2 separate regions of the Homo sapiens genome follow, and region 2 is linked to region 1. The links come from fine-mapping of genetic effects on gene expression. Tissue or cell type: lung. Region 1 holds a variant in brackets; the other region holds the start of a gene. All regions are shown on one strand. Distances are from middle to middle.

Region 1 (5,198 bases):
CCAGCACTTTGGGAGGCTCAGGTGGGCAGATGGCTTGAGCCCAGGAGTTTGAGACCAGCCTGGGCAACATGGCGAAACCCCATCTCTACAAAAAAAATACAAAAAATCAGTCGGGTGTGGTGGAGTGTGCCGGTAGTCCTAGCTTCCCAGCTACTCAGGAGGCTGCACCGGGTGGATCACTTGAGCCCAGGAAGCAGAGGTTGCAGTGAGCCATAACTGCGCCACTGCACTCCAGCCTGGGCAACAGAGTAAGACCCTGTCTAAAAATAAATACATTTTAAAAAGGGAAGGAAATTCTGACATGGTGCAACATAAATGAACCTTGAAGACATTCTGCTAAGTGAAATAAGCCAGTCACAAAAGGACAAATACTGCATGATTCCCTTAGGAATGTAAATGAGACACCTCGAGTAGTCAAATTCATAGAGACAGAAAGCAGAATGGTGCTTGCCAGGGGTGGGGGGAGGGGGAATGGGGAGTTAGTGTTTGATGGACAGTTTCAGTTTTACATGATGATAGAATTCTGGAGATGGATGGTGGTGATAATTACACAGCCATGGATGTGAATATACTGCCACTGAATTTACACTTAAGTGGTTAAAATGGTAAATTTTATGTTATGAATGTTACCACAATTTTAAAATATTAATCAAGAAAACAAAGTATTGGCCAGGTGTGGTGGCTCATGCCTGTAATCCCAGCACTCTGGGAGGTCGAGGTGGGCAGATCACGAGGTCCAGAGATCGAGACCATCCTGGCTAACGCGGTGAAACCCAGTCTCTGCTATAAAAAATACAAAAAATTAGCCAGGCGTGGTGGCAAGCGCCTGTAGTCCCAGCTACTTGGGAGGCTGAGGTAGGAGAATGGTGTGAACCCAGGAGGCGGAGCTTGCAGTGAGCTGAGATCGCACACTGCAAGCCAGCCTGGGCGACAGAGTGAGACTGCGACACACACACACACACACACACACACACACACACACACCCAAAGTATTTCGGCCAGGTGCGGTGGCTCATGCCTGTAATCCCAGCACTTTGGGAGGCTGAGGTGGGTGGATCACCTGAGGTAAGGAGTTTGAGACCAGACTGACAAATATGGTGAAACCCTGTCTCTACTAAAAATACAAAAATTAGCCTGGCTTAGTGGCGGGCAACTGTAATCCTAGCTACTCAGGAGGCTGAGACAGGAGAATTGCTTGAACCCGGGAGGTGGAGGTTGCAATGAGTCAAGATCGAGCCACTGCACTCCAGCCTGGGCGACACAGTGAGACTGTCTTGACTAACTAAATAAGATATTTAGTTGTTTGTTACTTGGGGGACCACAGAGGAAGTTGCTGGTGATTCCCCCACGTTATTTTCCAAAATCTTAGTAAAGTGCCACGGAGAACCACAGTGGGAAGAAGTCGGCCCAGGCTCCATCTGGTGCACGGGGCAGAGGCATCCCTCAGTCACAGGAGGCATCCCTCCCGAGGCTCCTCGACCCCAAAGACTATTTTCAGGAACCCTTTGTAACATGGCTCTTATTTTTATACATCAATGTTTTCCTAAAATGGAAGCCAAAGGCACAGCATCAGATCTAACCAAACCACTGACCTTTTTAGGGTCATCACATGTGCCAATTTCACCTACTTCTCATATCTTCCTATTTTCAAAGCTCCCCTCACCCTCAAGGCATAGTCTGGCAGTGGCGGCTCAGCACAGCAAGGATTATGCTATAGGCTCTGCAGGGTGCAGGCCTGCGCCCAATCGCCAGCCTCACCATTTCTCAACTGGCCAGTTTGCAACTTCCGCAGGTGATCTCAGCTCTCCACGTGCCCACCTCTTCACCTGTAATATGGCCACTAAGGCAGCATCTTATTGGGTTACTAGGCCCCCCTGGAGCACTCAGCCTGGCCCAGCCAATCAGCTGCCTTCACCTCCTCTAGACCTCCGGGCTTTGCTCAGAGCCTGGCAGTGCCTCAGAGACACCCCCTGAATGTGTCCGGAATATAACACTTTACTATGAGAACTCAGCCTATGCCCTTCCTGGGGGATTGCAGGGAGCAAAGCCAGGTGTTATGACTTTCCAGATGATATGGAACCCAAAGACGGGCTTCTGCTGAGGCCTTGGTGTACCCTCAGTGCTCCATGATGACACCCACCCTGAGGGCCAGGAAGGCTCCAGTGCTGGGTGAGAAGTCACCTACCTTGATGATGACGCGCTGGTCTGACTGGTCCTCCAGGATGCTGTCCGTGGGGTAGGACTCGATCTGCTGTCTGATGGCAGAGGCGATGGCTGGCACAAACGTCAGCGGGTTCAAATCCAGATCGTCACAGAGGATTTCTGAAAACATCTCAGGCGTCATCAACTTCTCTGAAATCAGGAGAGGGAAGGGATGCCAAGAGATTGCACCATGCTTGGGCATGGACCGGCCTCCCTCACCCCTTCTTCTTTGAAGCCAAACATCTCCGGATGCAGGAGAGGACAACCAGGGCACTGGGGGTGGCCTTCCTGGAAACTGGGAGTGGAAGGAGGAAGCACATGACTAGCAGGCCCCCAGCCCTCATCCTGCACAGACCTCCTGCTCCATGCCCTGGGGGTGGTCATGGCCATAAACACTTCCCTCATTCCACTCATAGCTGGGTGGGCGCATGAGATTATCCCAACTAATGAGATGATCCAGGCGAGGCCAGCAAAGGCACATCAAAGCTTGCGTGCCATCTCTCTACTCCCCTCTGTGCTGAACTGGTGGCAGACGTGATGGCACAGAGGCTGGCCCAATACCAGGCCTCATGTGAGCAAAACACACTGTGCCAAGCCACAGCGATTTCCAGGCCTGTGACTGCAGTAGCAGCAGCAGGGCCTCAACAAGGTCACAAGCGTGGAGGTCCCTACAGATCCCGGATCCTGGAAAAGGAATTGTACCAGATGGGAGCTCACAGGGACCATCTGTGGCCAGCCAGACCTCAGCAAGGTCCTCTCAGTCAACATTCTCTCCCTGCTCCACCCAGACCGTACTGACAAGACGCCTTGCAGGAATAAGCTGAAAAAGCCAAGAAAAATT[G/C]CCTCAGAGCAGACAGTAGGATTCCATCATCAAGAAGCAGGTCGGCCTAACAGACCACAGCCCCACTATCTCCTCCCTGCCCTAAAGACACGCTGGAGACCAGCATCCTAACAGCCTGCGGGGCAGCAACAGCAGGAACCTCAGGTGCACGGGGTAAACACCCAGTGAATACACTGCCCAGAGCATTTTAAAATTTTTAAGTAATTGTAGATTCATGTACAGATGCAAGAAACAACACAGAGAAATTCCATGCACACTGCGCCCAGTTTCCTCCAAAAAAGACAAGATAGAGGACTGTATCTGTATCCAGTGATTCATCCAGATTGTCACTTCCTTTTACTGCCAAGTGACATTCTGTGGTACGAAGGGGCCTCACTTTAACTATTCACTCACTGAAGGCTATCTAGATCATTTCCAGTTTCCCGCTATTATAAATAAAGCTGCTATGAACATCCACGTGTAGGCTATTGTATAAACATGTCTTCATTTCTCCAGGATAAATGCTCAAGGTACACTGGTTGCATGTTTAGTTTTTTGTTTGTTTTGAGACGGAGTCTCGCTCTGTCGCCCAGGATGGAGTGCAGTGGCGCTATATCGGCTCACTGCAAGCTCCGCCTCCCGGGTTCACGCCATTCTCCTGCTTCAGCCTCCCGAGTAGCTGGGACTACAAGCAGCCACCACCACGCCCAGCTAATTTTTTGTATTTTTAGAAGAGACAGGGTTTCACCATGTTAACCAGGATGGTCTCGATCTCCTGACCTCGTGATCCGCCCGCCTCGGCCTCCCAAAGTGCTGGGATTACAGGTGTGAGCCACCACGCCTGGCCGCATGTTTAGTTTTTAACAGAAATTGCCACACTGTTTTCTAGGGCAGTTTTCCAGCCACTTTACATTCCCATCAGCAGCTTGTGAGTGACCCAGTTCCTCCACATCCTCGCCAGCATCTGATGCTGTCACCACTTTTTAAAGATGTGGAATAACAGTGTAATTTTAATCTGCATTTCCCTAAGGCTAACAATGTGGAAAAGCTTTTCAATGTTTATTTGCCACCTATATAACTTCTTTAGTGAAATTTCTCTTCCTGTCTTTTGCCTTTTTTTTTTTTTTTTGAGACGGAGTTTTGCTCTTGTTGCCCAGGCTGGAGCGCAACGGCGTGATCTTGGCTCACAGCAACCTCGGCCTCCTGGGTTCAAGCAATTCTCCTGACTCAGCCTCCCAAGTAGCTGGAATTACAGGCATGCGCCACCATGCCCGGCTAATTTTGTATTTTTAGTAGAGACGAGGTTTCTCCACGTTGGTCAAGCTGGTCTCAAACTCCTGACCTCAGGTGATCCGCCCACCTCAGCCTCCCAAAGTGCTGGGATTACAGGCGTGAGCCACTGTGCCCAGCCTTTTTTGTTGTTGTTGCTTTTTTGGGACAGAGTTTCACTCTTGTTGCCCAGGATGGATTGCAACAGCGTGATCTCGGCTCACAGCAACCTCTGCCTTCCAGGTTCAAGCGATTCTCCTGCCTCACCCGCCCGAGTAGCTGGGGTTACAGGCATGCGCCACCACGCCCAGCTAATTGTGTATTTTTAGTAGAGACGAGGTTTCTCCATCTTGGTCAGGCTGGTCTCGAACTCGTGATCTCAGGTGATCTGCCCACCTCAGCCTCCCGAAGTGCTAGGATTACAGACGTAAGCCACTGTGCCAGCCTACTTGCCTATGATTGTCTAATTGCTCCAGTGCCATTTTGTTGAATGAGCTGTCTTTCCTCCATTGAATCACATTTGCATCTTTGTAAAAATCAGGAGGGCACGTTTGTGTGGGTCTGTTTCTGGATTCTCAATTCTGTTCCATCACGGTATGTCACTCCACCAATACCACACAGCCTTGATTATCGTAGCTATATAGTAAGCCTTGAGATTGGGTAGAATGATTACTCCCACTTTACTGTTTTTCAAAATTGCTGGCCGGGTGTGGTGGCTCATGCCTGTAATCCCAGCACTTTGGGAGGCTGAGACAGGCGGACTGCCTGAGCTCAGGAGTTTGAGACCAACCTGGCCAACATGGTAATACCCTGTCTCTACTAAAAATACAAAAATTAGCCAGGCATGGTGGCGGGCACCTGTAATCCCACCTACTCGGGAGACTAAGGCAGGAGAAACGCTTGAAAC
Region 2 (5,124 bases), 29 kb after region 1:
GCAGGCCCTGCAGGGCTCTGAGTCTCCTAGATGCCCCCCAAAGCCCCTTCAGAACTTAGGAAACTGGGCTTGCCTTCCTGGCTTTCCTCTGAACCAGCCTTCACCCTCTTGGGACCCAGGTTTCCTGAATATAAAATCAAGGTGCTGGACTTGGGGATCTGTTAGGGTCCTCAAAGCTCCATGACTCCGGCTTGGTAAATACAGCTGTCTGTTAATGGCAGAACAGTGACACACACTCTTAGTAAATGCAGATGCCTTCCCAAGACAGCTCCACAGATGGCGCATGGAGGCACTGGGTATGTTGCTATGGCTGGCCCACCTCTCTGAATACAGTGCCTGTTTTCCACAGGGCAGTGGGCTGAGACCGTCCATCCACTACTATCACTGGAGCTACTGAATTTCAATAGAGCTCTGACCTTGAACTCTTCCCTAAACTCCGAAGGTCTGATGATTAAGTCAGGCCCAAAAGAACAAACTGCCTCTCCAACTGAGTCTCTTACAGCCTGGGTCTCAGGAAGATTATTCTTACTGGGAGGCCCAGGAGTCAAGGGGCTGAAAGACAAGACTGTAATTAGCTTTCTAGAAACTAAAATGTGTTTTGGGGAAGATCTTGGAGACCATCTAGTCTAAGCATCACATTATACACATGAGAAACACGACAGCAAGGCAGAGCAGGGCTGGAACCAGGCCTCCCAAGGTTCTTCCCACTTGGCCACGCACAGCTTCTCAATTTGCTCCAACTAATAAATGAAAGCTTTCTTTTGAAGTGTCACCTACTTAGAGCCAAACTGATTACTTTTACACCCATTAGATCAGGTAAACAACTCGCCTAGTATCACAGGCTGAAATTTGACACCTTTTGCATTCTGCAGTTAGGCAGGTGCCTACTGGCCAATGAGGACCATTCTGAACTGTGGCAGATGGACAGGCACTGGCTCTACCTCCCCAGCACTGGCATCTTTGAACAGTTGTAATTTAAGTGACAACGTGAAAATTTTATTGAATCCTATATTTTTTGTTTTATAAAAATTAGTGGAGGCCAGGCACAGTGGCTCACGCCTATAATCGAGCACTTTGGGAGGCCGAGGCGGGCAGATCACTTGAGCTCACAAGTTTAAGACCAGCCTGGACAATATGGTAAAACCCCATCTTTACTAAAAATATAAAAATTAGCCGGGTGTGGTGGTGTGTGCGTGTAGTCCCAGCTACTTGGGAGACTGAGGTGGGAGGACGGCTTGAGCCTGGGAGGCGGAGGTTGCAGTGAGCCGAGATTACACCACTACACTCCAGCCTGGGTGATAGAGTCAAACCTCGTCCAGAAAAAAAAAATGGTGGAAAATGCTAACACTAAAGTTCTGATGCTATTGACCTTAGTCTCATCCATGGGACTCAGTGTGACCATCTTGAGGCTTCATTCATTCATGCTATGCTCAATTGTGAAGGATAAAACCCACAAGTTTAAAAAGTATGAATGCGCTGAGTGTGAGTGCAGTAGCTCACACCTGTCATTCCAGCACTTTGAGAGGCTGAGGTGCAAGGATCACTTGAGCCCAGGAGTTCAAGACCAGCCTGGGCAACATGGCAAAACCCTGTCTCTACAAAAAATACAAAAATTAGTCGGGCACGGTGGTGCACACCTGTAGTCCCAGGTACTTGGGAGGCTGAGGCAGGAGGATCGCTTGAGCCCAGGAGGTCAAGGCTGCAGTGAGCCGAGATCACACCACTGCACAAAGTGAGATCTTTTTTCAAAAATAAAAGAAAATAAAGTACGAATAAAATGCTGGAATATGATACTAAAAACTGCTATAAGGAGAAGAAACTCTTGGCATTTCATGATAGCTTTAATTCTCCAGGATTGGCACTTACTTCCTTACATGAGATTCTACTGCTTGACATTTGTACATCTGAACTGTATATCCATAATTTTTTTAAAAAGGTAACATATACTAGCTGGGGACTGCCTTTGGAGCAAAAAAGGCTAGTTTGAGACAATCTGTAAAAACCTAATATATGGCCGGGTGTGGTGGCTCATGCCTGTAATCCTAGCACTTTGGGAGACCCAGACGGGCAGACTGCTTGAGCCCAGGAGTTGGAGACCTGCCTGCGCAACATAGCCAGACCCTGTCTCTATAAAAAACAAAAAACAAGAACCTAATAGACTTGGAACAAACACCCATTCAAAGGCCAGTAGAGTTTTCCTGAAGTCAGTCATCCAGTTGATGCAACAAAATGCAGCCACTCTAGTTAAGGGTTAAACATCCTTAGGCTCTTTCCCCTGTAATAATTCAGAATCAGTTCACAGATATGGAAAGTGTCAATCGCTTCAGAACTGCTGAAAGATCTAGCTTAGGCATGGGGCCCTTATTCACCCAAAAGCAAACATCTTCCTCCAATCTGTTTCTTCACCGGTAAACAAAGGTCAAAAGACCTCCACTGCTCACCTAAGAGGCAACAAACACAATGGGGATGAGCCCTCACTAAGTCCAGGGTTTCCAGCCTGCCATTTGAGGTTCCCACAAGTAGCAATACGGGGAGGGGTGCACGTGAAATTTACGACATCTAAAAAGGGTCAAAGGCAGCAGTGCAGTCCCCCAAGCGTCGCAGGGGCTAACTCAATATCCCGTTTCTTTGCGTCTGACTGGAAACCAACCCAGCGCGGAACCACTGGGGCCCCTCGCGGCGCCAAAATCTTGGCAGCACTGAAGGCGGCGGACCTCGGCGAAATAAGTAAGGAAATCCCAGGTCGATGAGGGGGCGGGGGCCACACCCGACACGCCCACTAGGCCACGCCCCACAGCCCCGAGCGCGCGCGCGCGCGCCCGCCCGCCCCGATGAATGGAGACGCGCGCTCTCGGCGCATGGGCCCGCCCCGGGGCTCCCGCGGGGCCGAGCCCGGGGAGGGCGAGAACGCGCCCCGGGCTACCTCGGAGCCGATCATGTAGAACTCGCCGTCGTCCTCCAGCTGGAACTTCACGGGCTTCTGCCCGAAGGTCTTGCTCAGCGCCATCATCATCATTGCGGCGGCAGAGGCGGGCGGCCGGAGCCGGGCTGCGAGGGATCAGGAGGGCTGGGGCGGGGCCGGGGCGTGCTGGGCCGAGGGAAACCGAAGCCGGAAGGCGAAATGCGGACCGGGCCGGGTACTGGCGCCTCAGCCGGGCTCCTCAGCCGCCGCCGCCGCCGCAGACGACGACCAGGCCGCCCTCAGTGCGCAGGCGCTGGCGTTGACGCTGACGCGCGCGCCGCCGCTCAAACAAAAGGCCGGGCGCGCCTCCGCGGACCCCTTAAAGGAGCCACGACTAATTTCTCTTTCTCCCAGGCTGCCTCCCAAGTCGTGGTGTAGAGGACTTCTCACGGACAAAAATAGCCAATGAGGTCCTGACTCAAGCAGTGGCTTTCCCAGTCTTACAGCCAGGACTGGAACTGAGCCCAGGGGAAAAGCAACGAAGTGAGGCCTGAAGGAGGAGGACCTAGTATCTGGAAGCCTGGGTGGTCTGGGCATGCTTTGGGACCCCAATCTCGTGCCTTAGCTTCCCCACCCCTAAAACGCAGTGCAGCTGAGCAGATAGGCAGGCCCCTAGGAAGAGATATCCCAGTTCCGGGCCTACGGCTGTCCCTGCAGCTGTGGAGGTGGGCAAAATGACAACAGCGGATGAGGCTTGGCAATGTTCAAAGGCCCAGGTGGTATTTGGTTTGGCTGGTGCATCAGATGAGCGTTGGAAGGGAGAGACACCTTCCACCTTCTCCATTCCTCTCTTAGCCTACACTCTGCTTAACCGAGCCCTGCAGTGGGGAGTGAAACCAGGCAGCCCAGCCCTGTGGCTCTGCCTCTTGGCTCTTACAGCGCGAAGCTAGTGAAACTAATGAAAGTCTGAAAGCAATCATGATTGAATAATGCAGGGAGTAAAACAGTGGCCCACTACTGATGATTTCACACCGTTCAATCTAATGAAATTGCAGCTGTGGCTGGGCTCAGCGGCTCATGCCTGTAATCCCAACTCTTTTTTTTTTTTTTGAGGCTGGAGTCTCCTGCCTCAGCCTCCCAAGTAGCTGGGACTACAGGCACCCGCCACCACGCCCAGCTAATTTTTTGTATTTTTAGTAGAGACAGGGTTTCACCATGTTAGCCAGGATGGTCTCGATCTCCTGACCTCGTGATCCGCCCCCCTCGGCCTCCCAAAGTGCTGGGATTACAGGTGTGAGCCACTGCGCCCGGCCTTGTAATCCCAACTCTTTAGGAGGCCAAGGCAGGGAGGATCACTTGAAGCCAGGAGTTTGAGACCAGACTGGACAAGACAGCAAGACCCTGTCTCTACAAAAATTCTAAAATAAATAAGCTGGGTGTGGCATGGCGGTGTGCACCTGTAGCCCCAGCTACTTGGGAAGTGGAGAGGGGAAGATCCCTTGAGCCCAGGAGTTCAAGGTTATAGTGAGCTGATTGCACCACTGCACTGCAGCCTGGGCAACAAAGGGAGACCCTGCCTCTCTTAAAAAAAAAAAAAATGCAACTATGCTATTACGAAGACACACATGGGGCTGGAAGGTAGGGCAAGGAGACACTGGAGAGTTGGGAAGGGCAGTGACTGAAGTTGCTTTGTTCTGTATCCTCACAGTGGTGGGAAACCAAAGTACAGTCATCCCTCAGTATCCATGGGAATTGGTTCCAGGACCCCCTGCAGATAATAAAGTCCACAGATGCTCAAGTCCATTATATAAAATGGTGTCATACTTGCATATAACCTACACACACTTTCCTGTATACCTTAAATCATCTCTAGATTCCTTATACTACCTAATACAATGCAAATGTTATATAAATAGTTGTTATACTATTGTTTAGGGAACAATGATAGGGAAAAAAGTCCGTACATGTTCAGTACAGAGGTAACCATCCCTTATTTATTTATTTATTTATTTATTTATTTACTTATTTTATTGAGACAGAGTCTTGCTCTGTCGTCCAGGCTGGAGTGCAGTGGCATGATCTGGGCTCACTGCAAGCACCGCCTCCTGGGTTCACGCCATTCTCCTGCCTCAGCCTTCCGAGTAGCTGGGACTACAGGCGCCCGCCACCACGCCTGGCTAATTTTTTGTATTTTTAGTAGAGACGGGGTTTCATGGTGTTAG

The links. PIP is the estimated chance that this variant, and not a neighbour inherited with it, causes the effect.
Region 2: SMARCB1 starts here. The variant in region 1 is fine-mapped to the expression of SMARCB1 in lung (TOPMed, PIP 0.99). The same link has a PIP of 0.9 or more in blood mononuclear cells.

What each region holds. Positions count from the first base shown.
Region 1 is chr22:23,813,924-23,819,121 of GRCh38, reverse strand. It overlaps SMARCB1 (SWI/SNF related BAF chromatin remodeling complex subunit B1), which reads right to left. Exons shown (of 9, transcript NM_003073.5): 6 at 2,186-2,352. Among named protein-coding and RNA genes, the nearest start is that of DERL3, 22 kb to the left of the region's middle. RefSeq lists enhancers at 2,189-2,690, 2,691-3,192. The variant G/C (reference allele first, on the strand shown) is at 3,044.
Region 2 is chr22:23,785,062-23,790,185 of GRCh38, reverse strand. SMARCB1 (SWI/SNF related BAF chromatin remodeling complex subunit B1) reads right to left here and starts at 3,220. Exons shown (of 9, transcript NM_003073.5): 1 at 2,924-3,220. The coding sequence starts at 3,016.